5 separate regions of the Homo sapiens genome follow, and regions 1, 2, 4 and 5 are each reported to be linked to region 3. Evidence: microRNA targets listed by miRTarBase, many of them from high-throughput screens and not tested one by one. Region 3 holds a microRNA gene; each other region holds the end of a gene's coding sequence.

What was found. The annotated mature microRNA hsa-miR-1247-3p reads CCCCGGGAACGUCGAGACUGGAGC and lies in region 3 at 2,207-2,230, opposite strand. An mRNA with a match to its seed (bases 2 to 7 or 8) in the 3' UTR can be bound and repressed. Matches are read on the target gene's strand: a 7mer-m8 pairs with bases 2 to 8, a 7mer-A1 pairs with bases 2 to 7 and ends in A, and an 8mer does both.
Region 1: the mRNA of ZNF566 is a reported target of hsa-miR-1247-3p. Seed matches in the 3' UTR shown: 7mer-A1 at 3,467-3,473 and 7mer-m8 at 4,087-4,093.
Region 2: the mRNA of SCD5 is a reported target of hsa-miR-1247-3p. Seed matches in the 3' UTR shown: 7mer-m8 at 5,129-5,135.
Region 4: the mRNA of TARS2 is a reported target of hsa-miR-1247-3p. Seed matches in the 3' UTR shown: 7mer-A1 at 1,856-1,862.
Region 5: miRTarBase lists PARP11 as a target of hsa-miR-1247-3p. Seed matches in the 3' UTR shown: 7mer-m8 at 3,035-3,041.

Annotation. Positions count from the first base shown.
Region 1 is chr19:36,443,691-36,449,833 of GRCh38, reverse strand. It overlaps ZNF566 (zinc finger protein 566), which reads left to right. Exons shown (of 5, transcript NM_001145344.1): 5 at 1-4,715. The coding sequence ends at 857. Among named protein-coding and RNA genes, the nearest start is that of ZFP82, 28 kb to the right of the region's middle. RefSeq lists an enhancer at 1-783.
Region 2 is chr4:82,625,600-82,631,683 of GRCh38, forward strand. SCD5 (stearoyl-CoA desaturase 5) reads right to left here. Exons shown (of 5, transcript NM_001037582.3): 5 at 3,940-5,918. The coding sequence ends at 5,728. Among named protein-coding and RNA genes, the nearest start is that of LINC00575, 7.2 kb to the left of the region's middle.
Region 3 is chr14:101,558,120-101,564,262 of GRCh38, forward strand. MIR1247 (microRNA 1247) reads right to left here and starts at 2,303; the gene lies at 2,168-2,303. DIO3 (iodothyronine deiodinase 3) reads left to right here and starts at 3,376. Exons shown (of 1, transcript NM_001362.4): 1 at 3,376-5,333. The coding sequence starts at 3,378. The coding sequence ends at 4,292. It overlaps DIO3OS (DIO3 opposite strand upstream RNA), which reads right to left and starts at 2,303. Exons shown (of 2, transcript NR_152588.1): 1 at 2,133-2,303.
Region 4 is chr1:150,505,636-150,511,680 of GRCh38, forward strand. TARS2 (threonyl-tRNA synthetase 2, mitochondrial) reads left to right here. Exons shown (of 18, transcript NM_025150.5): 17 at 1-70; 18 at 1,281-1,967. The coding sequence ends at 1,429. It overlaps ECM1 (extracellular matrix protein 1), which reads left to right and starts at 2,474. Exons shown (of 10, transcript NM_004425.4): 1 at 2,474-2,644; 2 at 3,896-3,946; 3 at 4,026-4,127; 4 at 4,287-4,367; 5 at 4,467-4,547; 6 at 5,241-5,563; 7 at 5,822-6,045. The coding sequence starts at 2,575. RefSeq lists an enhancer at 4,859-5,729.
Region 5 is chr12:3,807,410-3,813,552 of GRCh38, reverse strand. It overlaps PARP11 (poly(ADP-ribose) polymerase family member 11), which reads left to right. Exons shown (of 8, transcript NM_020367.6): 8 at 1,114-4,692. The coding sequence ends at 1,430. Among named protein-coding and RNA genes, the nearest start is that of CRACR2A, 57 kb to the right of the region's middle.

The DNA of each region.
Region 1 (6,143 bases), not on the chromosome of region 3:
CTCAGGGGGGACATTTCAATCAATTGGTATTCACTCATGAAGATCTGCCCACTTTGAGTCACCATCCATCCTTCACATTACAGCAAATCATTAACAGTAAAAAGAAATTCTGTGCATCTAAAGAATATAGGAAAACCTTTAGACATGGCTCACAGTTTGCTACACATGAGATAATTCATACCATTGAGAAGCCTTATGAATGTAAGGAATGTGGAAAGTCCTTTAGACATCCCTCAAGACTCACTCATCATCAGAAAATTCATACTGGCAAGAAACCCTTTGAATGTAAGGAATGTGGAAAAACCTTTATTTGTGGCTCAGACCTTACTCGACATCACAGAATTCACACTGGTGAGAAACCCTATGAATGTAAGGAATGTGGGAAAGCCTTTAGTAGTGGTTCAAACTTCACTCGACATCAGAGAATTCACACAGGTGAGAAGCCTTATGAATGCAAAGAATGCGGGAAGGCCTTTAGTAGTGGCTCAAACTTTACTCAACATCAGAGAATTCATACTGGGGAAAAACCCTATGAATGTAAGGAATGTGGCAATGCCTTTAGTCAGAGCTCACAACTTATTAAACATCAAAGAATCCATACAGGTGAGAAACCTTACGAATGTAAGGAATGTGAAAAGGCTTTTCGTTCTGGCTCAGACCTTACTAGACATCAGAGAATTCATACTGGGGAGAAACCCTATGAATGTAAGATATGTGGGAAGGCTTATTCTCAGAGTTCACAGCTTATTAGTCATCATAGAATTCATACTAGTGAGAAACCCTATGAATATAGGGAATGTGGAAAGAACTTTAATTATGACCCACAACTTATTCAGCATCAAAATTTGTACTGGTGATGAAACAGAATATATGAAATGTGTAGGGAGGCTTTTAATTATGGCTCAAAACAGAATTTATCTTGTTAATAATTCCTCTAGATAGAATAATGTAGAAACATTTTATTTGTGGACTACAGCTTATTCAGCCTGGGAAAAATAATGTTGGAGAAATACTCTATGAATAGAATATACTTTGGAAGCCCTTAACTAAACGCTTACTTCTCTTGACATCAGATAATTCAGTCTAGCAATATGATAGATAATTCAGTCTGTCATACTGAAAATGACAGCACTTTTAACACCTTTCTAACCTTCTTAACGTCAGAGAATTTTTGTAGAAATGTAGTCCTGTGATTGTCATTTTTTCCCCTAATTTCTCTAATTGTTACATTCTTAGTATTTTAATCCATATTAAATTTATATGGCTATAAATTTCATCTGTTTACATCCTGATTTGTATACTATTTTAAAAATACCTTTAGTACCTGGGAGAAGTGACCTCTTTATTTTTGAAGATGGCTTATTCTTTTTGTTCTTTATAACATTAAGGCTTTCTTATTGTAAAAATGTTCATGAACGACATTTTACTCAATAGAGATTCTTCATTATCTTCATGGTGTTTTGTTGTGTTACTGTAATATCACTTATGAAATCCTATTGGTGGATATCGTAGTCTCCTCTAGATATTTTGCCATAATACATGCCAAAATACAAGTCCCTGCTGGACATTCTCCCTAAGCACATCTTTGTATCATATCTTTTAATTGCAGAAGTAATGTGTGAATATATTTTCCTTATAAAAGATGCAAACATTACAAAAAGGCAAATGTACCCTTTGACCATATCCCAAAGGATAGTCTTTATCAGTTCATTATTTATTGCTGATCATTTTTCTGTTCATATATACATGCGTGTCTCAGTAAAAATTATAAAATGGGGGATAATTATAATACCTACCTCATAATGCTTTGTGAGGATTAAATGAATTAAGATCGATAAAGTGCTTAGAATTGTGCCTGACATGATAAATACATACTCACTGAATGTTAGTCATCGTTATTATATTCATCATCATCAGTATTATTATTTGTAGAAAGGCTTTTTAACTTCTGCAGAACTTAGTCACCATTAGGCAGGGTGTTTGACTGAAGAAAGACCCTTTGAAGGTAACAAGTTAAGAAAATTTCCCATCATCATGTACTTACTATTGAACATGAAATAATCCTAGGTGTTGGGGGGGAAAGTACTGTGAATAATGTGTGTGAAGGACTTTATTCCGACTAATACTCTTTTTGTCGCATTATATACCCAGTAAAAAAGAAAAGAGAACATAAGCAAAATATTGGTGCACTAATGAGGAAAAAAAGTATGAAAAGAGAAACAGCATCATATTTAAAAAATGGACAGAGATAGAAACATAGTTACAGATTTAAAAGGTTCTGTTGAATATTATGCTTTTTTCTAATATGTTTGAAAATTTAAACAAAATGGTTTTTAAGGAAAATATACATCAATATTGACTCCAAGAAAATTAGGACTCTTCAAAGACTCTCATAAACACAGAGAACAGGGAAAAATTAGCATGTGATCAGTTAACTATTACTAATGAAGCACCAAATCCAGTTTCTTTCTAAGGAAAACTTTATCAAATGTTCAAGGAACTATTTCAGTTATATAGAAGTACACATCTTGGCTCACGCCTGTAATCCCAGCACTTTGGGAGGCTGAGATGGAAGGATCATTTGAGGCCAGGAGCTTGAGACCAGCCTGGCCAACATGTTGAAACCCCATTTTTACTCAAAAATACAAAACTTAGCCAGGCATGGTGGCACATGCCTGTAATCCCAGCTACTGGGGAGGCTGAGGCAGGAGAATCACTTGAATGCAGGAGGTGGAGGTTGCAGTGAGCCAAGATCACGCCATGGCACTTCAGCCTGAGCGACAGAATGAGACTATTAAAAAAAAAAAAAAAAAGTCCACAGTGTAGCTTTGTTTGGGGTTAAGTTAGTGTTTTGAAATGGGCCTTCCCTGTGCTCAAAACATGCTCAGCAAGCAGCTCCCCACGCTGGACAGATCGCATATGTGGAAGGATGAAGTTTATGTCTGTAGAACTGTTATTTTATGCCCCACTTCCTTTTTTCTTAGATCCTGTGTAGACGGGTCTCTCTGAACATTGTGTTACTTTACTTTACTGGCATAAGGAAGTAAAATATTTCATAATAAATTTGAGAAAAGTAGAGTGAGCAAAAATACCTGCAAATGAGAGAATTACTAAAAATGGACTGTTGTAATGTTTTGCGTTATCAAAATGAAAACTGCCAAATGAGATTTTGTTTACTTTCTTTTCTTGTGTGCTTATGTCTTTTATAAAGTTCTTCATCTAAAATTATAGAGATAGTGCATTTGCACCCAAATTAATGAAACAATACCATTAAAGAGAAAGAAAAGGGGCTGGGCACAGTGGCTTACGCCTGTAATCCCAGTGCTTTGGGAGGCCAAGGCAGGGGGCAGCCTGGCCAATATAGTGAAACCCCATCTCTACTAAAAATACAAAAATTAGCTGGGCGTGGTGGCATGTGCCTGTAGTCCCAGCTGCTCGGAAGGCTGAGGCAGGAGAATCGCTTGAACCCGGGAGGCGGAGGTTGCAGTGAGCTGAGATCCTGACTGCACTCCAGCCTGCATGACAGAGTCTCAAAAAATCTGTCTCAAAAAAAAAAAAAAAAAAGAAAGAAAAAATGATTATCTTTGCCCTTCTCCGTTCCTCATTCCCTCCCCTCTGTCAATTTTCTTCTGAATAATATTTAAAGGTTGTGTATATTACCCATATATTTCTTCATGCTAAAACATTAACACACAATTATTTTATTATGTTTTTACAGAAAAATGGATAACTATACATTTCCCTGAAATTTGCTTTTTTACATTCAACTGTACATTTTGGATTTTCCTTCAATAGATGATGATCTAACAGTCTTTCTGATGGTTACAGTATGTTCCACAGTGTTATTTACCAATGCCTTTTCAACCACTTTCCCAATTGTGATATTATGGATTGTTTGCGCTTTTTTGCCATCTAAAAGTAATGCTGCAACAAACACTTTGTATTCTTGTCTGTTTTATTTCTATAAAATAAGCTTCCCAAGTCATTTCCAGTGTTTTTGCTTTGTTTTGTTTTGAGACAGAGTTTCACTCTTGTTTCCCAGGCTGGAGTGCAATGGCGCAATCTTGGCTTACTGCAATCTCCGCCTCCCGGGTTCAAGAGATTCTCCTGCCTCAGCCTCCCAAGTAGCTGGGGTTACAGGTATATGCCACTACGCCTGGAAAATTTTGTATTTTTAGTAGAGACGGCATTTTTCCATGTTGGTCAGGCTGGTCTCGAACTCCTGACCTCAGGTGATCCACCCTCCTCGGCCTCCCAAAGTGCTGGCATTATAGGCATGAGCCACCGCACCCGGCGTCATTTCCAGTGTTTTCTATGTTTCCTAGGAAGGTTTTGCTTCTGGAAGATTTCAGAGGGCAAGAGAATAAAGGAGTGGAGTGCAGTTTTTCATATATGTGATTCTGTGAGTGTGTATACACAGAGATTTAATATTTTAATACATCAGGAATTGATTATACGATCTAATGCAGGATGTCAGACTTGTTTCTATCCAGGAATAAAACCAGTTATGCCAGAAGTAACTATTATTCACCTTTCTCCTACTGAATTAAAATACTATCAGTTGTATATTAAATGCTCACATCTATTTCTGTTCTCCATATTCTAGCAATCCTTGACACTTTTCAATAGCTTTTATTACTTGGAAATAAAGATGTATGTATATATTATTAATATATAGTTTATTATTTGGAAATAAAGATGTTTCTTCATGAGAATTTTTGACTCATTTATTTTCCAATGAAAACCCCATTAGGATTATATTTTGAATTTCATTCAGTTTAAATGCAGAGTATCCTACATGAATAAACAATTGACACTGAATGGAATTCATTAACACATCTTGAGGTTTCTTTTATAACTCTTCATCCTCTTGACTCTCTAATATCTAATAATAACACCATCTACTGTGATGTCTCACAATACTTAAAATATGCTAGTAATACCTGAAAATTTATTAGAGTTCTGCTTATAAGGTGATAGATTCTTTTGGGCTCTATAGTTATATAATCTGCAGATAAAGGTGACATACCTATCTCACAATATTTTTTATATCTATTTTATTTTATTTTATTTGAGACGGAGTCTCCCTCTGTCGCCAGGCCGGAGTGCCGTGGCGCGATCTTGGCTCACTGCAACCTCTGCCTCCTGGGTTCAAGTGATTCTCCTGCCTCAGCCTCCTGAGTAGCTGGGACTACAGGTGCACACCACCACGCCCAGCTAATTTTTGTATTTTTAGTAGAGACAGGGTTTCACCATGTTGGCCAGGATGGTCTCGATCTCTTGAACTTGTGATCCGCCCGCCTTGGCCTCCCAAAGTGCTGGGATTATAGGCATGAGCCACTGCGCCTGGGCCATCTTATTTTCTTATTGCATATGCAGACCACAGACCTGGTGAGAGTGGGTATTGGGCAGCACTTTTTTTTTTTAACCATATTTTACTCATTTTTTACAGAACAGCCAGTTTTTGAGATTTTGTTTTCTTCTTCCTATTTTTAGCCCTACTCTTGTTTGTGTGTTATAAGAGAAATGACTTATTGCCTTGGTGAAATGTGTTAAAACTGTGTATATTACCTCCCTTCATTGGACCCTTAATTTCTCCATGGTCTCTAGTACAGGCTATGATTTTCTATTCCTACTTTATAGAAAATAGATTTTCTATTCCTATTTCCATCCCATTTTCATTCAACTGAAAATGTGATGGGCAATATCTATACTTTATATCTGTGAGGATTCTGTGTAGACATTCTGTCATCTTACTTTTAAGTGTAAACTACAGAAATAAACCACAGGTTCAATGCAATCCCTATAAAAATACCAATGACATTATTCACAGAAATAGAAAAAATAGCCCTAAAATAGCCACAAAAGACCCAGAATATCCAAAGCCATCCTAAGCAAAAAGAACAAAACTGGAGAAATCACATTACCTGACTTCAAATTATACTGCTGAGCTATAGTAACCAAAACTGCATGGTACTGGCATAAAAACAGACACATCAACCGATGGAACAGAATAGAGAACCTGGAAATACATCCGTACATCTACAGTGAACTCATTTTCAACAAAGGTGCCAAGAACATACATTGGGGAAACGATAGTCTCTTCAGTAGATGGTGCTGGGAGAACAATATCCACATGCAGA
Region 2 (6,084 bases), not on the chromosome of region 3:
CCTTACACACAGCTCCTGTGTTTTGCGATACATGTGCTGTGAGCACAGGCTTATGTGAAATCTGGTCATAAAACTACAAACACACCCTTGCTGTGGTGGGCCCAGTCATTTTGTCCACCCACAGCACAGGGGTTGCCAGCTCTGTCTCACAGTTGGTACCTCTAGAAGAAAGCAACTTCTGAGACTTCTGGCCGGGCATGGTGGTTCACACCTGTAATCCCAACATTTTGGGAGGCCAAGGCGGGCGGATCACCTGAGGTCAGGAGTTTTGAGACCAGCCTGGCCAACGTGGTGAAGCCCCATCTCTACCCCCAACAACAACAACAGAAATCCGGGCATCGTGGCATGCACCTGTAGTCCCAGCTACTGGGGAGGCTGAGGTGGGAGGATTGCTTGAACCCAGGAGGTGGAGGTTGCAGTGAGGGGAGGTTGCAATGAGCTGAGATTGCGCCACTGCACTCCAGCCTGGGTGACAGAGTGAGACCTTGTAAGAAAGAAAAAGAGAGAGAGAGAGGAAAGAAAGAAAGAAAGAAAGAAAGAGAAAGCAAGCAAGCAAGCAACTTCTGAGATTCAATGGTAACATTGAGAGTTGCCTCATAGAGGATTGAGAACAAGTGGGGAGGAGGGCAGCTATTAGTAGATCCCTAGTTGTGAGGGATTCAGATGGCTGGTTGAAGGTAATGCCATCTTTTTTCCATAGTAAACCTAGGCCAGCAGCTGTAAGGAAGGGTACTCTTTTGCAGGGCAAAGTCTTCACAGCCCCAGCTAGCCCAGGCTGCTGTTAGCTGATATTTTCCTTTTGGATCCTGTGAAGCAGTTACAGGCAGGATGTGGCTGACTGTTCTTCCAGATGGGGAGTCGTGGCACCACGGGGTCGGGGGGTGAATGGAGAGGGAAAGAAGGCTGTGTCGGAGCCCACAGAAGCTGCTGGGACAGCCGGGCTTGTTGCCCTGAGACAGGCCTTCCCTCCTCCTGCTTCTGATGTTGCAAATGTAGAAGTCAGGAACATCCTTGGGGTGGGATGGGGGCTTCGGACTCTACAGTCCACAGGGAAGTAGCAGAGGGAACAAGGAAAGGAGTTTCCAGTTCATTTATAGCACATCCTTGACGTAGAGGAAGGGGAAGGAGTTTGATTAACACCCTAAGCTAAAAATGGGAATTTTTTTTTTTGAGACAGAGTCTCACTCTGTTGCCCAGGCTGGAGTGCAGTGGTGCAATCCGGCTCACTGCAAGCTCCGCCTTCTGGGTTCAAGCAATTCTCCTGCCTCAGCCTCCAGAGTAGCTGGGACTACAGGCATCTGCCACCATGCCCGGCTAGTTTTTTGTATTTTTAGTAGAGATGGGGTTTCACTGTTACCCAGGATGGTCTCGATCTCCTGACCTCGTGATCTGCCCGCCTCGGCCTCCCAAAGTGCTGGGATTACAGATGTGAGCCACCACACCTGGCCAAAAATGGGAAAATTTTTTAAGAAAGGATTATAAAGGTTAGGAGATTTCTTTCAGCCACTGAGAACACAACTGGTTTTCAGTCCCCTTTGTAATTGGGGACAGGAGTGAAATGGACAAATGAACCTCACAGATAATCCCCAATGCTTACTCTCATCCATGAGTTTCAACCTCTCCCCTCCACAAATCTATTCCAGGTCCTGATGAGCTGACTGAAGCATAGGGACATTGCAGGCCAGACCTGTCCTTTGACACAGGTGCGAGGCACAGTAAGGAGGCCAGGGGTGCAGAGGGCCACGCGGAGGCCTGGAACTGATGGAGGCACACGGTTGCAAAGACTCCCCAGAACGGCAGAGCTGGACAGGTTAACCCAATCCAGTTGGTCCTTTATGGAAAGTGAAACCAAAGTTCCCAGAGGTTAGAGCCATCTGGTTAGTTAGCAAAACCAGGCCCAGAAGCTGGCTCACTTCTGGTCTATGGCTCTCTGCACCATATCCCAGTCTCTGGCTTGTGTGTGGGGCATGCTACTCACCCTCAACTGATGTCTCCCAGGGCTCTGCAATGCCCCAGGCACTGGGATGAGGCTTCCAGATTCATCTAATACACATAAATGTTGCTCTTCCTGTCGTGTAGACAAGGACACTGAGGCTCAGAGAGGCTCCGCAGGCTAGTAAATGACAATTTCATATGTCATATTTCAGCCTTAACCTGAGTCCCAGGTAACACAGCCAGTCAGATCAAGAGTTAGAGTTCAAATCCAGGTCTCAGGACTCCAAGTCCAGTGCTATTTCTACTACCCCATTAAGCTGTAGAGCTTTCTGTAATAATTTCTCTCATTAAATTGTTTTTCATGATGGGTTATATTTAATTGCTTTATTGCATTTTAGGAATGCACAAAATATATGCAGATTTTTTAAAACCAAGAACATTCTATCCTTCCAGCCTCAGTCTGTGTTCTCCCATTCAGATTCACTTACTCCCTCCCACTCCCAATTTTTGACCTTCTATGTCCAGAAAGGATGAGTGCTAACTTGAGAGGTGTTTCGAATTTGAAGTCAGGCATATGAGAACACGCCCGACTCATCTCTGTTGCTGTGGTCGAATGTTAGGGCTGAAGGGGACCTTAGAGAAGAGTCCTCTCTTTTCAGAGAAGGAAACTGAATCCAGAAAGGCTGACGTTTCTCAAGGCCACAGAGCTGGCCAGTAGCAGAGTTGGGGACTCGAGGTGAACTTGAGTTGGCTCCACTGTCCCAGGCTGGCTCCATGACTCTGCCATGACGCCTGTGGGACACATGCTATTGGAATTGCTTTCCCTGGGCTCCCTTCACCTAGATGCAGGGGTGGGTGCTTCTGAAATAAGCCTTGTGAGGATGAGGAGATTAAAGACTGGACATGGGGGGACCATTTTTTTATCTTAAACTGAAACTTTCAAACAATGTATCAGTCTAAGGCCACCTTGGATAGGTTTGGGAAATAACTCCCAGAGCTACTTTCTGTTAAGATGCTGCTGAGACCTGAAAGGAATGTTAACAGGGAAGACACTAGTGCAATCTAACCTTTGTCCAACTCTTCCTCCAAATCATTCCAATCCGAGGTCATTCATGGCTCTGCTGCAGAAAAAAAGATGGCACTCAGGTTCAGAGGAAGGAGATTCTAGATTTATTTGGTCTAGCTGGGAAATACCCTCCTTTTGTAAAAAGATTCCAAATAGCTGTTCCAAATGTCATCTTTTTGACTAATGGACAAGTAAGTAAGTTTAGTACTTTTAGGAGTCAAAGGTTCACATATACATTCCCAATTAAGGGCCATTTCACATCATGCTGATACAAACTTATCTTGGAATGTGACTACCCTCCACCTGCGCTCTATACAAGGTCTTAGCAATGTGTGACTGGGATATGAAGCAGCTGAAAAATGCTACGGTCACATCCAAAGGGTCCTTACATGATGTGATCTAGCCTGGTACCCATCAATGGCTAGAATCCCACTCAACTGCAGACACGTTAAGAAGCTTCTACCTGACAGTACAGCCACAGCTGCTTTGGGGCAAAAGATGGGTGGAGACTTTGGTGGTGCAGAGGTGAGGTTGAGAGAGGCAGGACTAGAGTGAAAACAGGAGTCCATCTCCCCCACCTCTGGTAACTATTGGTGGGGCCTGGAGAGGGGAAGGTGTCCTTCATGCTCCTTTGGGTGACATATAGGAGTAGATTCCCAATTATCATCTATAAGCACTCCCAGTGGCTGCTGGTGAGTGAGAATCAGGGAACAATACCACTGGGAGTTCTACATTCCAAATAAAACTTGCTGGCTTCCTCTGGCTGTTGCCTAAGGCCGATAGGATAGGACAGGCCTGGTCTCAGGGGCTGGTCTCAGGGGCTGTTGTTAGCCCAGAGCCCAAATCCCAATGTGAGTCATACAATCATCATGAGGCACCAAGCACTCTGGAAAGAACATTCTCTAAACAGCACTGAAGTATCTGGACAAGAACACCAATGAATTCATAATCATTTATTGTAAATCACTCACAGTTTACACATTACCAGTGGCAAAATAACACTGTTAAACACCTACTGGATGAAGAACTTCATTGTGACTATTTCCAATTGCCATCATATCTTTTTCTAAAATTTAAAATTTAACTTTTAAATCCTACATCTTTTCTGAAAATATCTATCTTCAAAGTGCTCCAATACTAACACTATAAGCCCTTTCTTTTGCTCTAACATCTAACACAAAGGGCACACTGTCCCATTAATTCCACATGCACTTTACAAAGCAACTTCACACACAAATTTTTTTAATCCAGAAGCTACATAATGATCACTTTATATTTTGCTACAAAATTAATGAAGGCTGCATGCAGGTGAAACATTAGTAGACACGGAATTCTAGATAACTGTTGGTTCTCAAGATCTGATGGTCTGATGTGGAAAATTAATATGCTTATTTAGCAGAAGTAGCTAAAGTACATGCATCAGTGGCTGGGATCAATTAGAATATAAATTAGGTGCTTAAACATTTAAACGAGAGCTTAATTTGAGCTTAATTTGATGTCTGGCATGTCAGAGTTATACACCTTTAAGATAACAATAGCAAACAGAACAAAATCAAACATCTAAACAGGCATGATTTATAAGGTGGGCTGGCCATAGGGCTCAGGACACAAAACGAGCTGGGCAGTGAACAAATCTCTCTTGAAACAAAGACAGTAGAGCATTAACAAGCTGTAAACACAGCAAAAAAATAAACAAGAGCCATTTCCTGTATTCTCATTTTTTTCAGTTTTTGATTCTCTTAAGCAAACAATAAAACCACACACACACAATAATTAACAAAACAGAAACATTCTTTAGTTACCACATAGATCCCCCTTCTGTCTTCTACCCTGCCTCTCTGCTCCTTCAGATGGTTGTTTAAAAGCAATGATGGGTTAATTGGTAGAAAAGAAAACAAATGCTCTCCTGAACTACACTGAAAGAATATTACTTTCCTTCATCCTGTCAGGGTTAGCATCATGTTCAAGCACATGACAACGTATATTTGACGTATTTTAGCTATAGCGATTAAATCACATGTCCACACTCTAATGTTAAATCGTAGTAATATTGACTTGAAAAGTTTTTTAGGCTGGGCGCGCTGGCTCCCAGCTACTCGGGAGGCTGAGGCAGGAGAATGGCGTGAACCCGGGAGGCGGAGCTTGCAGTGAGCTGAGATCTCGCCACTGCACTCCAGCCTGGGGGACAGAGCGAGCCTCCGTCTCAAAAAAAAAAAAGTTTTTTTCGGCAGGGTGCGGTGGCTCACGCCTGTAATCCCAGCTCTTTGGGAGGCCGAGGCGGGTGGATTGCCTGAGGTCAGGAATTCGAGGCCAGTCTGGCCAACATGATGAAACCCTGTCTCTACTAAAAATACAAAAAAATTAGCTGGGTGTGGTGGCAGGCTCCTGTAATCTCAGCTACTCAGGAGGCTGAGGCAGGAGAATTGCTTGAACCAGGTAGGTGGAGGCTGCAGTGAGCCGAGACTGCGCCACTGCACTCCAGCCTGGGTGACAGAGTGAGACTCTGTCTCAAAAACAAAACAAACAAAAAAAAAAACGAAAGTTTTTTCATTGATAATTGTATTTCAACATTATTTTGAGATAAACAAAAACATTCCCAAACCACATTGACTCGTTCCTTCCCCACCCTCTGCCCCCTCCCACGATCCAATGTACAAGAGAGCTATTGTAACCAAAGCCATGAACCGAGGTTGCAACGGCAGACATGTGGGATGGCTGTTCCAAGTTCAAGCACTGCTGTCTCCAGTCCTGGCCTTCCGGGCCTCGATCATCGGCTTGGTTGCCCGTTTGCGGTCAGTGGCCAGCCCCAGCCAGCACATGAAATCAATGAACCAGGTGGTTGGGTTAAAATTTAAGCCAAATTCACTCGCAGAGTAGTCAAAGGGAAAGGTGTGATGGTAATTATGGAAGCCTTCACCTGGAAGACAAAGCGGGCATTGATATAATTCAATCACCACCTCTCTGCATAGATGTTTTGAATCACCTATTTTTTCAGGGTTTACCATGTGCAGGACATGGTGTCAGCCTCTGTGAGGAGCAAAAGACTTGGTTACTGACTCCAAAGGCATTGACTTAGTTAGCTA
Region 3 (6,143 bases):
CCGCCTCTCTCCAAGTTGTTCCTGGACACCAAATGGACCCCATCCAACTTGTCCCTCCTTTTCTTTCCCCTGCCCGCCCCCTGCTGGAGTTGTAAGAGGGCAGGCAGAAAGGGAGGTGGGGGAGGCCCAGCCAGGCTGGGGGACAGGAGAAGCAGCCCCAGTTCTAACTCTGCTTCCCCCACAGCAGAGCCTGCCAGGCCCCCGAGGGCCGGGACCTCTGGGTGATGCCTGGCACTCCCCTAAGTCACAGGTGGAGCTGGGCCTTTGGCCAGTACTCTCCCTCCTGACCACTGGGATGGGACAAGACAGTAGGGGCAACAGGTAGGAAGGGCCAGGTCTAAGGTGAGCTGGGGGTGCAGCCCTAGAGAGAGGTAGGAAGGAGGGACAGGGGTTGCTCTGGAGGAGAGAGGGTTGCTCCAGAGGCAGAGGGAAAAGACAACTGGAGTGGGAGTCAGTGAGCCAGGTTCTGTGTTCCAAAGGCCAGCATTGCCTGGACCTTGGGTCTGTCCTCACCTGCATAAGAGGCTGCAGGAGCCAAATGGGCCTTCCAGCCTTGTCCAATATTATGGAGTCCCGAGGTGTGGAGTGTATTCTGTGGGCCCAAGAAACAGCAACAGATCCCCAGAACAGATGACAGCCCTAAAGAAAGGCTGCTTTCCTGAGCATCCCTGGGGCTAGAAAGAGTGTGGATCAGGTGCTTCCTATTGGGCTGGGCCTGCAGAGGGGACAAGAGGGGCCAGTCTTACAGCCACCCAGACCATACTTTCCACACACATGCACATGCGCACACACACTTGCACACACACACACACACTTGCACACATATGCATGCACATGCCACCAGATCTCAGCCAGCACAGAAAGGCTCTCCCAGCCTTAGGTGGCTTATGCATTTTCTGAAACTAACTGTGGGAAAAGGGCTTGGGGAACCATCCCATGTGCCTGCACCAAATGCTGTGTGGGTGGGGCAGGACACAAGCCCTACACTGACACCTCCCAGAAATCAGGGAATCAGAGCTTGAGAGATTGTCCAGTAAAAGTTGGAACCCTCAACACCCCTTGACTCTGCCCAGGAGGAGCAACCTCAGAAGCCCCCCCAAACCTCCTCTCAGAGACCTGCCGAGTAGGAGGCTTCTCTCTCTACTCTCCTCCCCGCAAAAAAGAGGCCAGAAAAGAGGATGATTGGCTAACTCAGAGGTGCCCTGATGGAGGGGAGCAAACAAGGGGACTTCCAAGGAGAATTCCCTAGCCCACCTGAAAGACCCCTACCCAGAGTGGTGAGGGGCAGCTTAGGAGCACTGACGCAAGGGGGAGAGACCAGGCTGGCTTCCCTCTACGTAGTAAGTTCCTGGGGTGTGCGCCCCTGCCCCAGACAGCAGAGAAATCGCCTGACTGGGAGATGGAGAAGAGGGGCCACCTTCTCATGCCACCCCGCCGCCAATCCTCCAGGCACACTCGGGCGCTTGACCTGCTGAAGCCTGTAGCCTCAGGTCCAGTGAGGAGCTCACGGGACAGAGGGCCCTACCAGAGCCACGAAAACCGGAGGGGGGGACCTCCGCCCAAGGCAGGCGTCTCTGCGCGCCCGCTGGGGCCCTGGTCCTGCAGTTGGCTTCTCCCGACACGTTCCTTCGCTGCCGAAAGCGATTCGCCCGCGCTCTACCGAGCCCAGCCAGCTCCTACCTCGGCCCGGGCGGCGAGCGCTGTCTCCGTCCCGAGAAGAAGTTTCGCGGCTGGTCCCGGGGCGGCAGGCGCACGGGACGCTGGCGGCGGCGGCGGCTTCCGACTTGGGCTCAGACCCCGCCGCTCCAGACAAGTCCCCGCGACTGCGACAGTGTCTCGGGCAGTTCAGCTCCCCAGACGGGAGACAGACCCTCGCGACCTGGTTCAGGCCTTGCCCTGGGGGACACTGCAGTCCAAGGCGAAAGGAGACTTGCTCCCGGCCTCTGGGTCCCTAGGTCAAGGCACCTCCCCGCCCCGCCGCCCCTGAGCCCAAGTCGCCAACCCCGCGCCGCGCGCAGCGAGGGATCAGAAGGTCTCGGACGCCGCGGCAGGGCCGGCCAGGGCCCCACGAGTTAGGGAGTTGCCCCGCACCCCTAAACGCTCAGCACCCATTTACGGTTGAAAGTACGCACTTGACGCGTCCGGGCGCCTCCGCGGTGAGTCGCGCCGCCGCTCTCGGGGTCCGCGAAGGTGGCTCAGTTCGGGCGCTCCAGTCTCGACGTTCCCGGGGTAGAGAGCAACGTCCGGGGACGAACGGGACGGGTGCGCCCAGCGGCCGGGGCTGCGCTGGGCGAGGCAAGCGGCGAGAGGGGAGCGCTCCGGCGTTCAGGCAACAGCTACCCCTAGTGGGAGAGCCGCCCGGGGCCGGCGCCGCCCCGCGCCCGCTGCCCCGCGCCCCACGCCCGTGGCGCCCCGCGCCCGGGTCGGCTGGGGGCGCAGGGCCGGCGCCGCTTTCCCCAGCTCTCCGGTCTCCGGCGCCCGGCGGTAACCCGCCCGCGGGCTCTGCCCTCCGCACCTCTCAGCCCGGCCCCGGCGGCCGCTGACCCAGGAACCGCGGCGCCCCGCTGGAACGAGATGGGACGGGGCGGGCGCGGCCAGGGCGGCGCGGGCTGGGGCGGCGCGCGGCAGCCTCGGGCAGCGGCGGGGGGCGCGGAGCGCGGTGTGCGTGGCGGGGCGGTGCGGGGGGCGGCCGTGTGCGAGGCGCGAGTGTGAGCGCGCGCGGGAGGCGGGCGGGCGGGCTCCGGCAGGCGAGCGGCGCCCGCGGGCGAGCCAGGAAGGCGGCGGGAACGCAAAGTTGCCTCCTCGCTGGCCCGCGTCCTCGGTGGGGCGGGAGCCGGGGCCACCGAAGCGGCGGCCGCGGACCCGGCCTCCCGCGGCACCTGGGCAGCGGCCCCGCACGAGCGGCAGCGGCGTGGGCGGCGTTGGCGGCGGCGCGCGGGAAGCGAACCGGAGCTCCGGCGCGGCTCGGCGGCCGCCGGGGAGCTCGGCTCAGGTGCGCGGCGAGGGGGGCGCGGGCCGGAGCCAGGCGGCGGGGACCAGGGCGGCGCGCAGCGCTCGCGCCAGCTGGAGGACCTCCCCAGCGGACGCCCAGGTCCCTGGTCGGGCTCCCGGTCCCCAGCGGCAGCGGCTGCCGGAGTCCCCCGCCCCCGAGAGCTGGCTGCGGGGCCCGGGCCCGCCCCCACCGGCCCCAGGCCCGGCCGCTCCGCCCTCCGCCCGCCTGCGCCCGCCCTCAGCCCAAGATTTCTAGGGCATTGGCCGCGCTGCTGGGTGATCCCTCCGGGCTCAAGTTGCAAGGGGGCGGGCCGGGCCGGAGGTGGAGTCTCCCGCCAATTGAAGCCTCCGCTATAAATTGAACTCCCTGCACTGCTGAAGCCCAGATGCCTCGCCAGGCCACGTCGCGGTTGGTGGTCGGAGAGGGCGAGGGGTCCCAGGGGGCTTCGGGGCCTGCAGCCACCATGCTCCGCTCCCTGCTGCTTCACTCCTTGAGGCTCTGCGCCCAGACCGCCTCGTGCCTCGTGCTCTTCCCGCGCTTCCTCGGCACGGCCTTCATGCTCTGGCTTCTCGATTTCTTGTGTATCCGCAAGCATTTCCTGGGCCGCCGCCGCCGGGGGCAGCCCGAGCCCGAAGTGGAGCTCAACAGTGAAGGCGAGGAGGTGCCTCCCGATGACCCGCCCATCTGCGTGTCCGACGACAACCGCCTGTGCACCCTGGCGTCGCTCAAGGCGGTGTGGCATGGCCAGAAGTTGGATTTCTTCAAGCAGGCGCACGAGGGCGGTCCGGCGCCCAACTCCGAGGTGGTTCTGCCCGACGGCTTCCAGAGCCAGCACATCCTCGACTACGCGCAAGGGAACCGCCCGCTGGTTCTCAATTTCGGCAGCTGCACCTGACCACCGTTCATGGCGCGCATGAGCGCCTTCCAGCGCCTGGTCACTAAGTACCAGCGCGACGTCGACTTCCTCATCATCTACATCGAGGAAGCGCACCCCTCCGACGGCTGGGTCACCACGGACTCTCCCTACATCATCCCACAGCACCGGAGCCTGGAGGACCGGGTCAGCGCAGCGAGGGTACTGCAGCAAGGTGCACCCGGCTGCGCTCTGGTCCTCGACACCATGGCCAACTCCAGCAGCTCGGCCTATGGCGCCTACTTCGAGCGTCTCTATGTCATCCAGAGTGGCACTATTATGTACCAGGGCGGCCGTGGCCCCGACGGCTACCAGGTCTCTGAGCTGCGCACTTGGTTGGAACGCTATGATGAGCAACTGCACGGCGCTCGGCCCCGGAGGGTGTAAACATCCAACGGACAATTGACTGAACTTGGTGGGCTGGGCCTTCGAGCCTTCGAAGCCCACGTGCAAGCGCCTCAAACCAAGTCACGCTTGGCGAGGCCCCAGTGACACTGATGTGCTGAGCCACCATTTCAGACTGAGTCTGCACCCTCAGCCACATGAACAATCTCCCCTACCTCCCTGGGACTCTGCTTCTGTAACTGTCTCATTCACACCTGCCTGGCTCACTGGAAATCCTCTTTTGAGCGCGGGATATGGCTTGCCCTTGTCCGTGTGCCCCCAGGACTTTGCCTCTACAGCATTTTCTTACACCCCCTCCCCAGCGTGCCCTCAGCCAAGTGCTTTGGCCCGGTGCTTCCCGCAGCTGCACAGAGACCTTGGCCACGCCCGCGCGCCCTGAGCGCAGCTGGGTTCCAGGAGACTCTCAGCTCAGCTGAGCTAGTTGCCTGGCACCCACCTGTCGCGCGCGGAGAGGGGGTTCCCTGTTGCTTTTGTGTCTGTTTCCTGTCCCTGGTAGGGGAAGTGATGTCGTGGATGGGGAGGGGTGGGCAGGGTAGTTTCCCCCGCTTGTTTTGGGTGCACAGGAGCCCCACTGCTGATGACGAACTATCTCTAACTGGTCTTGACCACGAGCTAGTTCTGAATTGCAGGGGCCTCAAAGCAGCACCTAAACCTTGAGGGGGAGGGTGCTCTGGGTTTCCGTGAGGTAACCACCTTAAATGGGAGGGAAGTTGGGGTGTCTGCTTTGGGACCAGAGGAAGATAGCTTGAGAGGCATTGGCGAGGTTCGCAGCGCCCCAGGGAGAGAGAAAAAGCTGAGACTCCTGGGGAATGACGTTGGGGTGATGGAGTCCGGGGAAAGAGAGGTGGGGGGAGAGCCTGAGGTCCCCAAGTGAGGGGAGTCCTAGGCAGAGCTGCTGATTGTGGGGCTGGGAGGTGGAGGGCCCCTGATTCGAAGGCCATTTGGTGAGTGTTTTGCTGGAAATATTTCCTGTATATAAACTTCTTTCAATCTACAATAATAAAGGCTTGAGGTAAACTGCTTTCTGGTTGCCTTTGGTCCCTTTATTTTCTTTTCCCTCTGAATAGCGGCAGGAATTAAACACAAATCCCTCCCTCGCGTCCCCATAGTGACCTTGGGAAGCGGGACGGGAAGGAGCCTAGGCTGGCAGGGGCGCTGGAGGAGGATGGAGGAGGAAGAGGGTCTGCGGCGGTGCCCGGGGCGCTCCTACAACCGCACGCACCCACCTGGACGGGGAACTTAGCTGCGGGAGAAGAGCGAGGTAGCGGAGCGCCGCGGGATCCTGGAAAGCGGCGGGAGAGGCAAGGGGGCCCTCTCTTGCTCCCGCGCGCGCACACACAGACCGAACAGATGCAGCTGCCCCTGCAGCCGCCGATCCAACTTAACTGAGTATCCGGCGGTGTGTGGAGGGGGTTGGGTGAGGTGGAGGGCGAGAGGGGCTTTGGACCCGGTACAGCCTGGCTCCCGACCGCTGCAGGCACCACTGCGCACCTGACTCCTCCCTGGCCCCCTTCCGGCACCTGCAACCTTGCCTCTTGCCCACCCGCTCCAGGCAGCTGAGGTCCGCTGGAGGCGCGCCTTGGCAGAGGGGCGCCCTCACTCCAGCTGCGGCTCCTACTGCCGGGCCAGCGTGCTGCTGGGTGCGCCCCCTGCCCAGGACCCCCCTCCTCCTGTCCCTCCTCCGCTTCCCCAAGCTCCAGTCAAACCCCACCACCCGCTCCGTGCTGGGAAGCAGAGGTGGGAGGCCGCTGGGATGAAGAGAGAGAGACCAGGGAGAGGTGAATGGTGGATTCCAGGGCTGGGGCGGGGATTCGGGGCCTTAGGCACAGGTCC
Region 4 (6,045 bases), not on the chromosome of region 3:
GCAGACTCTGGACTGACCCTCAGCCGGAGAATCCGCCGGGCCCAGCTTGCCCACTACAATTTTCAGTTTGGTAAGCTGAACCTCAGAGCCAATGTTCTCCCACCTGCCGTCTGCATTCTTGCTGTTAAGTTTACCAAGTCTGGTAATGCATATTTGGGTTAATTGGGGCTCATTACCTGAGCAGGTAGGAGCCAGGATTCAGGACACCTGACTCATTTGGGCCCTGTGTTCCTTCACATTGCCCTGCCCTCCCCATAACCACTTCTGACACTCAAAATAGTTTTCCTCTTTTTAACTCCACTCTAGCTGTTGGTGTCTGTTAGGTTAATTAACCAAGGGAGCATCAGAGAGAAAGGGACGGGAGGGTTAATACAGCGTTAATTACCCTTGTTTATTTTAGACCTAGATGGAATCAGCCCTAAGGGATGAGGAGAAAGGCCTTAGGGAGAAAATTCTGGCACTGCCATGCTCCCTTTTTCATTTTCCAGGGTTCAGGGCTCTATCTCAAAGGTGAGGAGCAGAAACTCCTCAGCCAGATTACCTGATTCTTGAGTTTTGCACACCCCACTCTCCCTACAAGCACCCAGAGCAAGCTGTGCTGCAATCCCAGGGACTTGTACATGGCCCCTTTCCCTCCCTTACCGCCCAGTCAGCCCCTGCATACATCCTCCTCAGCAGAGGCCCCTCACTCTGTGAATCCAGCCCTAACAGACACCAAGAGCCAGAGTGGGACTGATGAGAGGAAACTGTTCTAAGGGTCAGAGTGGTTGGGGGGAGGCGGGGCAGTGTGAAGGCCACACCACTCCTGCCACCTTCCACTTGCTCTAATACCCCCTTCAGACACGCGCGCGCACACACACACACACACACACACACACACAGTTTCTCTCTGTGGGGTTCTCATTGTTTGTCTTTCTCTGCTTGACTCTAATGTCTCTGACACACACACACACACACACACACACACACACAGTTTCTCTCTGTGGGGTTCTCAGTGTTTGTCTTTCTCTGCTTGACTCTTATGTCTCTGACCCTGGGGCTCTTGACCAGAAGCGATAAGGCCTGCGGGGACTGAAGCACTTCCTTGTCTCCTCAGGATGAGCAGGACTGGTCATTTAGTATTAGCAGACACAGCTGAATACTTCCTTTCTGTGAACCATATCTGGGCTCTGCTCCCACCCTTCCTAAAGATTTAGGTCTCTCAAGTTTCTGCAGAGCAAAAGAAACTGTTCCATGTGGGTGAATTTGCCCTGAGGTTCCCAAACTTCCTCTACCTGCAGTGGTTGGCCAGAAAGAGCAAAGTAAGAGAACAGTGAACATTCGGACTCGAGATAATCGTCGCCTTGGGGAGTGGGACTTGCCTGAGGCTGTGCAGCGACTGGTGGAGCTACAGAACACGAGGGTCCCAAATGCCGAAGAAATTTTCTGAGCCTTTGTACATAGATGAGGCAAAAACCTGCGAGTGCCATCAGCCTCCCTCACATGGGAGACCCCAACCCAGCTGACAATGTGGAGCCCCCAGAACTTCAGAACTGTGTGGAGGCACATGTCTGCTCTCCTGAAAAGAGACTTGGTTTGGGGACCCCACAAAAGGAGGGAAGCTGTAGCTGTTTGGATGTGAGGAGAATGAAACTACAAAAAAAAATAAATTGGGCCAGGCGCAGTGGCTCATGCCTGTAATCCCAGCACTCTGGGAGGCTGAGGCGGACGGATCATGAGGTCAGGAGATCAAGACCACCCTGGCTAACACGGTGAAACCCTGTCTCTACTAAAAATACAAAAAATTAGCCGGGCATGGTGGCACACGCCTGTAATCCCAGCTACTCAGGAGGCTGAGGCAGGAGAATCGCTTGAACCCGGGAGGTAGAGGTTGCAGTGAGCTGAGATTGCGCCACTGCACCCCCCTAGGCGACAGAGCGAGACTCTGTCTCTAAATAAATAAATAAATAAATAAATACAAACTGGAAGCTGCTGGTCATATGTCTTCATCTCTGACTCTGGAGAGGTGGGATAAAAGGATGTTCCACTTTGTCTCCCTCTTTTTTGTCCCAGAGAGTTAGGGAAATTGAAAAGGGACAGTCCAGACCTCACACTGGTAGGGGAGATCCCTTGGATAGGTTTCCTGCTCCCCGCTGTAAACTCCTTTGTGCCCTGTTTCCCCAACCCCAGTTCATGAGTTGGCAGATCCCCTCTCCACAGAAGGCAGCCTGTAGATGGAGAAACTGAGGCACAAACTAGGGGCTCAAACACCTCTTGCTCCTGGATTCTCTGAATCAGTTTCTCTTGAAGGTCATAAGAATGTTCTCCTCTAATCAGTCCCATTCTTCTCAATCCTCTGAGGAGGCTTCAGGGTGACTTTGGGAGGAGTGGCTTCCAGAGGAGGAGCAGCTGGGACTGAGTCATGGCAGGAAGCTGAGGAGGGCGGGAGATCACACCAGACAATTATAAAAGAAGAGCTGGTCCTGAAGCTCACAACCGTAACAGCCACCAGACAAGCTTCAGTGGCCGGCCCTTCACATCCAGACTTGCCTGAGAGGACCCACCTCTGAGTGTCCAGTGGTCAGTTGCCCCAGGATGGGGACCACAGCCAGAGCAGCCTTGGTCTTGACCTATTTGGCTGTTGCTTCTGCTGCCTCTGAGGGAGGTGAGTTGGGGGATCAGCACTTAGGAGGGGGTCTGGGCTTGCATGGCAGGGGTCTGGGTCCAGGCATCCCAGACGGCTCATCACTAGCAGAGTGATTCTCCGTTTGGCTTTCCTTTTCTGAGCAGGCCCAAAGTGGGCCTAGGCCAGTGGAGCCTTTAACCAAGGAGGCAGAGAGCAGGGGCACAGAAGGAGAGGGGTTCCTAGAAACTGCTGCCAAGAAACACAGAATCCCAGTCAAATAGACAACTGAGTGGGGGGTGGGTTCACAGAGTGAGGGTCTCCTGCTGATGAGGATGTAGGGAGGTGGCTGGTGGGAGAGGCAAGGGAGGGAAAAGGGGCCCCCAGGCTGCTCAAAACCGGATTGCTGGCCCAGCAAGCCTCGACTGACTCCCTGTCTGATTAGAGGAGTTGAGGGGTGTCCATCCACAGACCCACCCTCCATCCAGCACAAACACATTCTTTATCTGCTTTGATGCCTGAACAAAACAGGAACCCCTCAATGCTATGGGTGGAAACTAAGAAAAAAAGGAAAAGAAAAGGAAAAAAACCACCCAGGGCACTCCTGCAGGAAGCTGCTGAGGATGTCAGCAAATCTGTCCACTTCTCTGTGAAGCCCCATGCCATCATTCTTCCCAGCTCCTGGTCTTTTGTGTCTGCAGATCACCTACAAGTGACCCTTCCCTGTGCCTGTCCCAGTCCCCCAGGCCCTAAATTGAGACCTAAACTAAGGCGGAGCTGAGACTGGCTGAAGGGGAAGCACTCAACCTTCAGGAAGCCTCCTTAACCAAAGGCCTAAAGATGTTTCAAGGGCCTGGAGTAGGAGGGTGGGTGGAGGAGGTGGATTGGGTAGGCTCCAACCAGCTCAAGGTCCAGACTTTTTCCTCTGAAAGCTAGAGACGCATCCCAGCAGAGACTGGGGAGGACAACCCACAGCCCTGAGGGAAAGACTGGCAGAGGAAATGAGGGCCTCCCTCCCCAATCCCGTATGCCATACTCCCTTTAGGCCCAACCTCTGAGCCAGTAGAGGTGGAGCTATCAGACCGCCACAGGCTTTCTCAGAACCCAGCTGGTCATGTCTAGGTGTGTTGGGGCTGGGAGAGGATTAGGGGACACGGGGCAGGTGAATACAGAGGGGCATCTCGTGTCTTGCTTGTCTGTCCTACACTCTTGATCTCCACAGCCTCCCCATCCCTTGCTGAAGTCCAGGGAAGGCCCTCCCAGTGGCCCCTGACTTGCCCTTCTTCCCTCCAGGCTTCACGGCTACAGGACAGAGGCAGCTGAGGCCAGAGCACTTTCAAGAAGGTAAGAGTTTGGGGGAGCAGCATGGGATTGGGACTCCAGGAGGCACTGTGGGCTCTGATGTCTCCCCTCTTGCTTCTAGTTGGCTACGCAGCTCCCCCCTCCCCACCCCTATCCCGAAGCCTCCCCATGGATCACCCTGACTCCTCTCAGCATGGCCCTCCCTTTGAGGGACAGAGTCAAGGTAAGGTCACCATCCCATGCCCTCCTCAGTGACCCTCCAGGTTTCTAATCTGGCCTATATCCCACTTTTCAGGTGGAAAGGAGGGAAGAGGCCCTCGCCCCCACTCCCAGCCCTGGCTAGGAGAAAGGGTGGGCTGCTCACACATTCCCCCTTCTATAGTGCAGCCCCCTCCCTCTCAGGAGGCCACCCCTCTCCAACAGGAAAAGCTGCTACCTGCCCAACTCCCTGCTGAAAAGGAAGGTGAGCGCTTGCCCACCCTCCCTCACCTCTATCCCACTATGGATCCTGTTGACACCAGGCTGATCCCTGCTCCTTGGTGCCCTCACCCCTATCTTGCAGTGGGTCCCCCTCTCCCTCAGGAAGCTGTCCCCCTCCAAAAAGAGCTGCCCTCTCTCCAGCACCCCAATGAACAGAAGGAAGGTAAGCAGCTCCCTCTCTTCTTTACCCACCTTTACCTCATGGCCTTCCCCCAGAGCATGGGCTTCGGGGCAGACAAGACGGTGGGCTCTGCCACTCACCAGTTGTATAACCTTGGGTAAGTTACATACTTCTCCAAGCCTTTGTTTCTTCATCTGTAAAATTGAGGATATACCTGTTTTAGAAAGTTATGTGATTAGATGTGCAAAAATAGCATCTATTTTCACTTGCTTCTCTGCTGAGTTCTTCTTTGTGCATGTAAACTAGCCAGGCTTTCTCTGCTAGAGATGGCCATCCCAACATGGCTTTTGCTTACTCCTTCTACCCAGTAGACCCACCTCTTCCATATCAGGAGGAGATAATCATCCATTCCATGCCGAGAGAGGGTGAGTGACAGCTTTGGTCTGTCCATCCTCCTGCCTTAGTGCTCAGGACCCTGGGGAGAGGAGCAGGAAGCCCGAGCCTTGAGAAGCAGGAGGAGGTGGGGGCAGGCTGTGAGCTGACACCTTTCACACCTCGCTTCTCTTTTCCTTTCAGTTATTTTAAAAGGAAGAGCCACAAATTGTTCTTTCTCATTTCCACTATATCCTCCCAACCCTTTCTCCTCCACCCCAGATTCTTTCAATCCTCCCAGCTCATCCAGCCTTTGTGGGTTCCTTCACATGTCCCCGCTTCCCACTGTTTTCCCCATTCCAGGAACGCCAGCTCCATTTGGGGACCAGAGCCATCCAGAACCTGAGTCCTGGAATGCAGCCCAGCACTGCCAACAGGACCGGTCCCAAGGGGGCTGGGGCCACCGGCTGGATGGCTTCCCCCCTGGGCGGCCTTCTCCAGACAATCTGAACCAAATCTGCCTTCCTAACCGTCAGCATGTGGTATATGGTCCCTGGAACCTACCACAGTCCAGCTACTCCCACCTCACTCGCCAGGGTGAGACCCTCAATTTCCTGGAGATTGGATATTCCCGCTGCTGCCACTGCCGCAGCCACACAAACCGCCTAGAGTGTGCCAAACTTGTGGTAAGGTTGGGTTCTTGATGCCGGGGGGTGTCCTTTAACCCCAGACAGTATGTGTGTTTTAAGGGTTAGAGCACTAGGCCTGGGTCTGGAGGAACCTCAGGTCCCGTTCACTGGCCCTACCCTGGGCCTCCCCAATGTGCCAGGGGAGCAGAGGACAACCACTGTCTCTTCTTTATCTGCCTGCCCAGTGTCCTTTCCTGGAGCCTGGGAGGAAGGCAGGAATGTGGAAAGTGGGCTGATCCTCCCCTCTTGCTCTAGTGGGAGGAAGCAATGAGCCGATTCTGTGAGGCCGAGTTCTCGGTCAAGACCCGACCCCACTGGTGCTGCACGCGGCAGGGGGAGGCTCGGTTCTCCTGCTTCCAGGAGGAAGCTCCCCAGCCACACTACCAGCTCCGGGCCTGCCCCAGCCATCAGCCTGATATTTCCTCGGGTCTTGAGCTGCCTTTCCCTCCTGGGGTGCCCACATTGGACAATATCAAGAA
Region 5 (6,143 bases), not on the chromosome of region 3:
GGTCAGAAGGTGTTACATAAATCCCATCAGTGTTAGGTAAATATGAGACTTTGCAATTCATTTCCACATTTTTTTAGAGTAAGAATGCCCTTAATGATGTCTATCTCTTGTGTCTACCATTTCAGAAGAGTTGGCTGCTTTATCGAGTTTTCATGTGTAGGCAGTGAGCCAGTAAAATCATTTTTGTTTTGGAATGCTCAGATATGAATAGCATTATACTCTCTCAGAAATCTTTTCATGGATATGGGATTCTATTGTTTCCAGAAATATTACTGAATTGTTATCCCATATCATAGAAATACGGTTTCTTGGGGTTTAAAAGAATCCCTGTAGGCCATCGGTTTCCACTGTGCTCTCTAGAGCTTTGCTGGATGTTGACAAGGGAACAGGGTGAGGAAGTGGTGAAAGGAAATAGAAACGGGAGGGAGGGCCAAGCAGTAAAACTCAGGGCCGGGCATGGTGGCTCACGCCTGTAATCCCAGCAGTTTGGGAGGTCGAGGCAGGTGGATCACCTGAGGTCAAGAGTTCAAGATCAGCCTGGCCAACATGGTGAAACCCTGTCTCTACTAAAAAAATATAAAAATTAGTTGGGTGTGGTGGCACGCGCCTGTAATCCCAGCTACTCAGGAGGCTGAGGGAGGAGAATCGCTTGAACCTGGGAGGCGGAGGTTGCAGTGAGCTGAGATCGCGCCACTGCACTCCAGCTTGGGAGACAGAGCAAGACTCTGTCTCAAAAAAACAGAACAAAACAAAACTCAGGTCCAACCACACTTTTAATCATTAAACCAGTTTTATCTGTTTTATTAATTGTTTTCTTTGTAAGATTTATTTTAAAAACAGAAGTCTGATAGCTATATTTTGGTGGGGGCAGGGGATGGTGTTGGTGGTGAGGACTGGTCTGTACCAACAAATCTATTCCTATGGCAGTCTATACTACAGCTGTCCATAACAGATGGATTTCTATTCTTCTCTTAAAGATCTGCAGATGAGGAAATTCCACATCTATTTTTATTATACAATTCTATGCATCTATTCTCCTGACAAAATGTTTTTGCTTGTTTTTAATATATTCTTCGGAGTAATCTTGGCTTTTCTTGGTCCTCTTTGTTTAAGGAACCTATTTTGCTAGAGATGCTGCTTATTCCAGTCGTTTCTGCAAAGATGACATAAAGCATGGGAACACATTCCAAATTCATGGTGTCAGCTTGCAACAGCGGCATCTGTTTAGAACATATAAATCTATGTTTCTTGCTCGAGTGCTAATTGGAGATTACATAAACGGAGACTCCAAATACATGCGACCTCCTTCCAAAGACGGGAGCTATGTGAATTTATATGACAGCTGTGTGGATGATACCTGGAACCCAAAGATCTTTGTGGTTTTTGATGCCAACCAAATCTATCCTGAGTACTTGATAGACTTTCATTGATTTCACTTCCAAATCTCGGTGGTCAAGGAAGCTTTATTCTTTTTTGCAGGAAGGTTTGCTCTTCAGTCATCTAGCCACTAAATGTTAATTATCTGATACTTTTGAAACAGATATGAAAAAAAGTGGCCTCCATATAAAAAGACATACTGACTTCAAGGTTGGTTTTTGTTGTTTTGTTTTTGCCTGTTTCTTGTAGTCTTGTTTGTTAAAAGTTGATATCATTGATGTTTTAACACATAGGGGTGAAAGATACCATTCAAAATGGAATCAGCTGAGTCTCAACTAATGTGGTCATTGAGATCTTTAAAGTTTACGTGTGTGTTATCAGGATAAATGATTTTAGTTTAAATAGACTTATTCGTATAAATGTTGAAAAAAAATACAGACATAAATGTGTCCCTTTAGAGGAATTGATCCTTTGTAAATTGAATTCAGGTAGTAGTATCATCCACCAATCCATCTGTTGCTTTGTTGGTCTTCTGAAGGGGGGATTTAAAACTCTGAAACAGTCTGAGCACCTTGAGAGAAATCAGAAACAAGACAATTATTTGCAGTGCTGTCAAACAAGCCAGAAGGAGAAAATCAAGGTAGAATGCCCCACTTTCCAGTTGCCTTAGGATAGCAGGCTGCAGCCTCAGACTTGATCCTGTCATTCTCCTCTGTCTCCCACATCTGAATTGATAATTGCTGCAAAATGTCATTAGCCTACACTTCATCCATCAGGGCTCTTGGATTCTTACACCACGACTTGCTGTGCAAGGTGTTTATTGCATCTTCAAAGTGAAACTTTAAATTATTATTCAAACATTTATTTTCCTTTTGTTTTAAAAAGAGTCCCTACAATGATCACTTCTAAGATTTTTTTTTACCTTCCCCTCTGCAGCACACACAGCTATTCAACAATGATTTCTAAAATTCATATTTCAAATTTGTATCTCTCCATTTTGAAACATTATAGAAAGCATGGGATGCTTGAGACAAATCTGGTTTCTCCTTTGAAGTAGCTGTTGACAACCTACTCTCTTGAAAAGTTAGATATAATTCTTAATCATGTTTAGTGGAAATTTGTTTACCTGTTCCATCTGTTTTGCTGTTTCATTGTAAGGAAGATGAGAAGTGTTGGAACAGCTTCCCTCCCCTAAAGGTATTCTAGCAGAGGCGAGACAGCAACTTGGCGGGCATGTTGCATAGGAGTTAAGTACCAGATGGGGAATTGCCCATGTGATGGTGAAGAGTCTCTCACATTGATTTTCTTCCTTTTCTCCTCTTCTCTCCTCCTTCTCTTCTCTCCTCTTTCTCTTCTCTTCTTTCTCTTCTCTTCTGTCTTCCTCTTCCTCTTCTCTTCCTCTCCTCTTCCTCTTTCTCTCTCTTCCTTTTTCTCTTCCTCTTTCTCTTTCTCTTTCTCTTCTCTTCTCTCTCTCTTCCTTCCTTCTTTCTTTCCTTCCTTCCTTCCTTCCTTCCTTCCTTCCTTCCTTCTTTCCCTCCCTCCCTCCCTCCCTCCTCCCTTTTTCTTTTTCTTTCTTTTTTTTTGGTTTGGCAGAGTCTTGCTCTGTTGCCCAGGCTGCAGTGCAGTGGTGTGATCTCGGCTCACTGCAACCTCCACCTCCCGGGTTCAAGCAATTCTCTTGCCTCAGCTTCTCCAGTTACTGGGACTACAGGTGCATACCACCATGCCCGGCTAATTTTTGTATTTTTAGTAGAGGCGGGGTTTTGTCATGTTGGCCAGGCTGATCTCAAACTCCTGACCTCAGGTGATCCGCCTGCCTCAGCCTTCCAAAGTGCTGAGATTACAGGCATGAGCCGCTGTACCCGGCCTGATTTTCTATGATTCTGCCTTTAAAAGACAGCACGTATACCAAGCCTTTTTCAGAAAGCTTTTCTCTTAACTCCTTCTAATGCTGAATTTTCTCTCTATTATCCTCACCCAATTTTGGCTGAGAGTTAGTGTACACAATTTAACTTCTTAGAAAAATTCCAGTGTCTATGCTTATATTGCTCACTTGAATCATTTGAATTAGAAAGGGATCTACAAATAATAAAAGCAAAGAGTGCAGACAGATTAGGGATAGTAATTCTTAAAGTGCCATCTATCCCAGATTTCCGTTATAGACCAGCATATGTGTAATTGTGCAGTGGGAGGTAAGTAGTACCCAGGACATTGCATGTACAATACTTTGAAACAAAGTGGCAACAAAGATTTCCTGGCTCAGGTATGCACCCCAGCTGCTGGTTTAGATGAAGTGCTGAGAATATTTAGAAAAAGCGCTTTAAAAAGCATCTAGAGATTATCATGAAAATAATTGGAGACAAAGTCACTAGGCTGCTTTGTGAGAGGCAGCATACCATGGCTCTAAACCCGTTCACAAAAAACAATGTTAGAGACATTAGGAATTCAGGTTTTGAAAATCTTTTTTTCGATTTATTTGTAATTTACATACCAAAAAACCACATTAAAATAGTCCTCCCTTCAACATGGCTATCTTTTTTCAAGTTTTATATGCATAGCTCTCTCAGCACTTGAATGGAAAAACTGTTACAGCATTTGGGAGTTGTTTTTCTTTTAGACTTTGCAGATCTTATCTCAAGGTGACTAGGAACCCAGAGCTAAGTATCTGTGAGGCAATCTCTGCGAACGCTGAACTTACCTAGTTGGTTTCTATGAAATATGTAGAATGCACTGCAGTAGCCATTGTAAGAAGGTACTATACCGGTTTTTTGGGGCTTGTTGTTGTTGTTTGGTCTGAGAATGTACTGCCAACCCCTCTTTTATAAGAGAGAACTGATTTTGATACATATTTTAAAATATGATAGTACAGAGTTAATGGATGTTAAAATTTTATTTCTTTGTTTTGGTAAGTAGATTAAATCGAGAATCATATAATCAGTACATTTGAGAATTATATAACCAGTATATAATAATACTGGACACAACCATTTGCCATCTTTTCCTGTTATCATCCCATAGAGTGGGTGGGGAGAATGAATAGACATAAACCTAGAATAATGATAAATGGTTTTTAAAACTCTATATTGAATACATTCCAGCTGATAATGACTTTTCTTTTTCACCTTGGTGATATCAGCCTCAGGGTAAAAAAAAAAGTTTCATAAATCTTTTAGTTATAAACAGGAAAGTTTTATATTAGTGTGTCATTTCATTTCTAGACTGTTGATGGTGATGATGATAAAGAATTTGGAGCCAATTTTGATATATGAATGTATTGCTTTTACATGTGATGATTAAAGCTCTCCATTAGCAGTTCTTGGTTGTCTGTGTATATCATATATTTGTTTCTGTGACTTATGTATCTCATCTCCACCTTGTATTATTTAAACCTAAGTTTTCAGCTCAATCTTAGTGGACCCAAGGAGTTTGTTGCCTGTAACTCATATGTACCCCACTTGCGGATGGGGGAAGTCTCTTGTTCTTAGTTTGAATCATCATGAGCAATAGCTAATCAAATAACCTATGGGAAAAATCATTTACTGTGTGCTATTATAAAAAAAAATCCCCAAACAGGCCAAGAGTTGGCATCTGCAGCATTTTTTATTCTTGGTGTGCTCCCCTGGCTCAGCGGAACAGCTCTGTAGGGTGTGTCTGCCTTCATCCAAGGAGTATCCTTCCTACAGCCCATCTAACCTCCAGCCACTCGCACTGTGTCTACCATCATTCCTGTTGAACTGAGTTAAACATTCCGTTCAACCTTTGGCAAGAAAGGATGGTATCAAAGGCTCTCCTCAGGTTAGAACTGAGAGAAATGAGGGGCAGAATGATTGACTCATTGTGATAAAAATTCAATTGAGCTTTGATTGTTGATCTAGAAGAGCCACATCCTTCCAAATTCTGTTCCCTAGCCATTCGAGTGTTTGTGATTACCTCCCAAATTGCTAGGAATAACACGAGAAACAATCTTATGGTGATCCTAGTTGTGTCGCCTCCAGATTTTCCACTCTCCTTAAGGATTATTTGTTTATTTTAAAATATTTTCTTTTGCTTAAAACAACGAGACAGTCAATTTCTAGATGAAATTATACACTCTGTACTTGTAAAAGAGATAAAAGGTAATGAAAAATAGCACGGAAAGGAAAAAAAAGACCCTTGTCAAAAATTAGTGTTGATTAGAAACTTTAACAAAGTGATTTTAGTTATTTTTATCCCTTTGCACTCTATGCAGGAAGAGTTTTGGTGATACGAGATAGTCTGCCACACTTTCTTATGAATCATTTCATAATGTTACTTGGGGCAACACAGATGGAAGAAATGAACATTTCAAAGAACTATGAAATACATAATTATTTGCGGGCTGCCTGATTAGTGTGAGTAATATATGCCGGGAGAGGTGAGCCCTGAATATCCAGGAGAGAAGTTGAAAGTTCATGTTTTAACCTTGACTTTTTAGCAGTGGTAGTTTACTTCTCATGTCTTCAGAAACTCTAGGATGGAAGGTGGTTTGGGGACTTACATCTCTCTCTTTCCTCCTGTCTCCTTCCTATATTGAGCTCTACTTGATCCATCTCAGGTAAAAGGATGTCTCAGTTATTTCTAAACCCAAACAGTAAATTCCTTGTAACTGATCTGAGTCTCCTGCTGTAAGATTTTGTAACCCATTTTCTCAGCTTTAATTGCTTGGCTTCCATTTGTCAGCACTACAGGCCAAGCACCTGGCTATTTGAATTCTCTCACCGTGTGGCTGCGTATCTAAGAATTTAGAC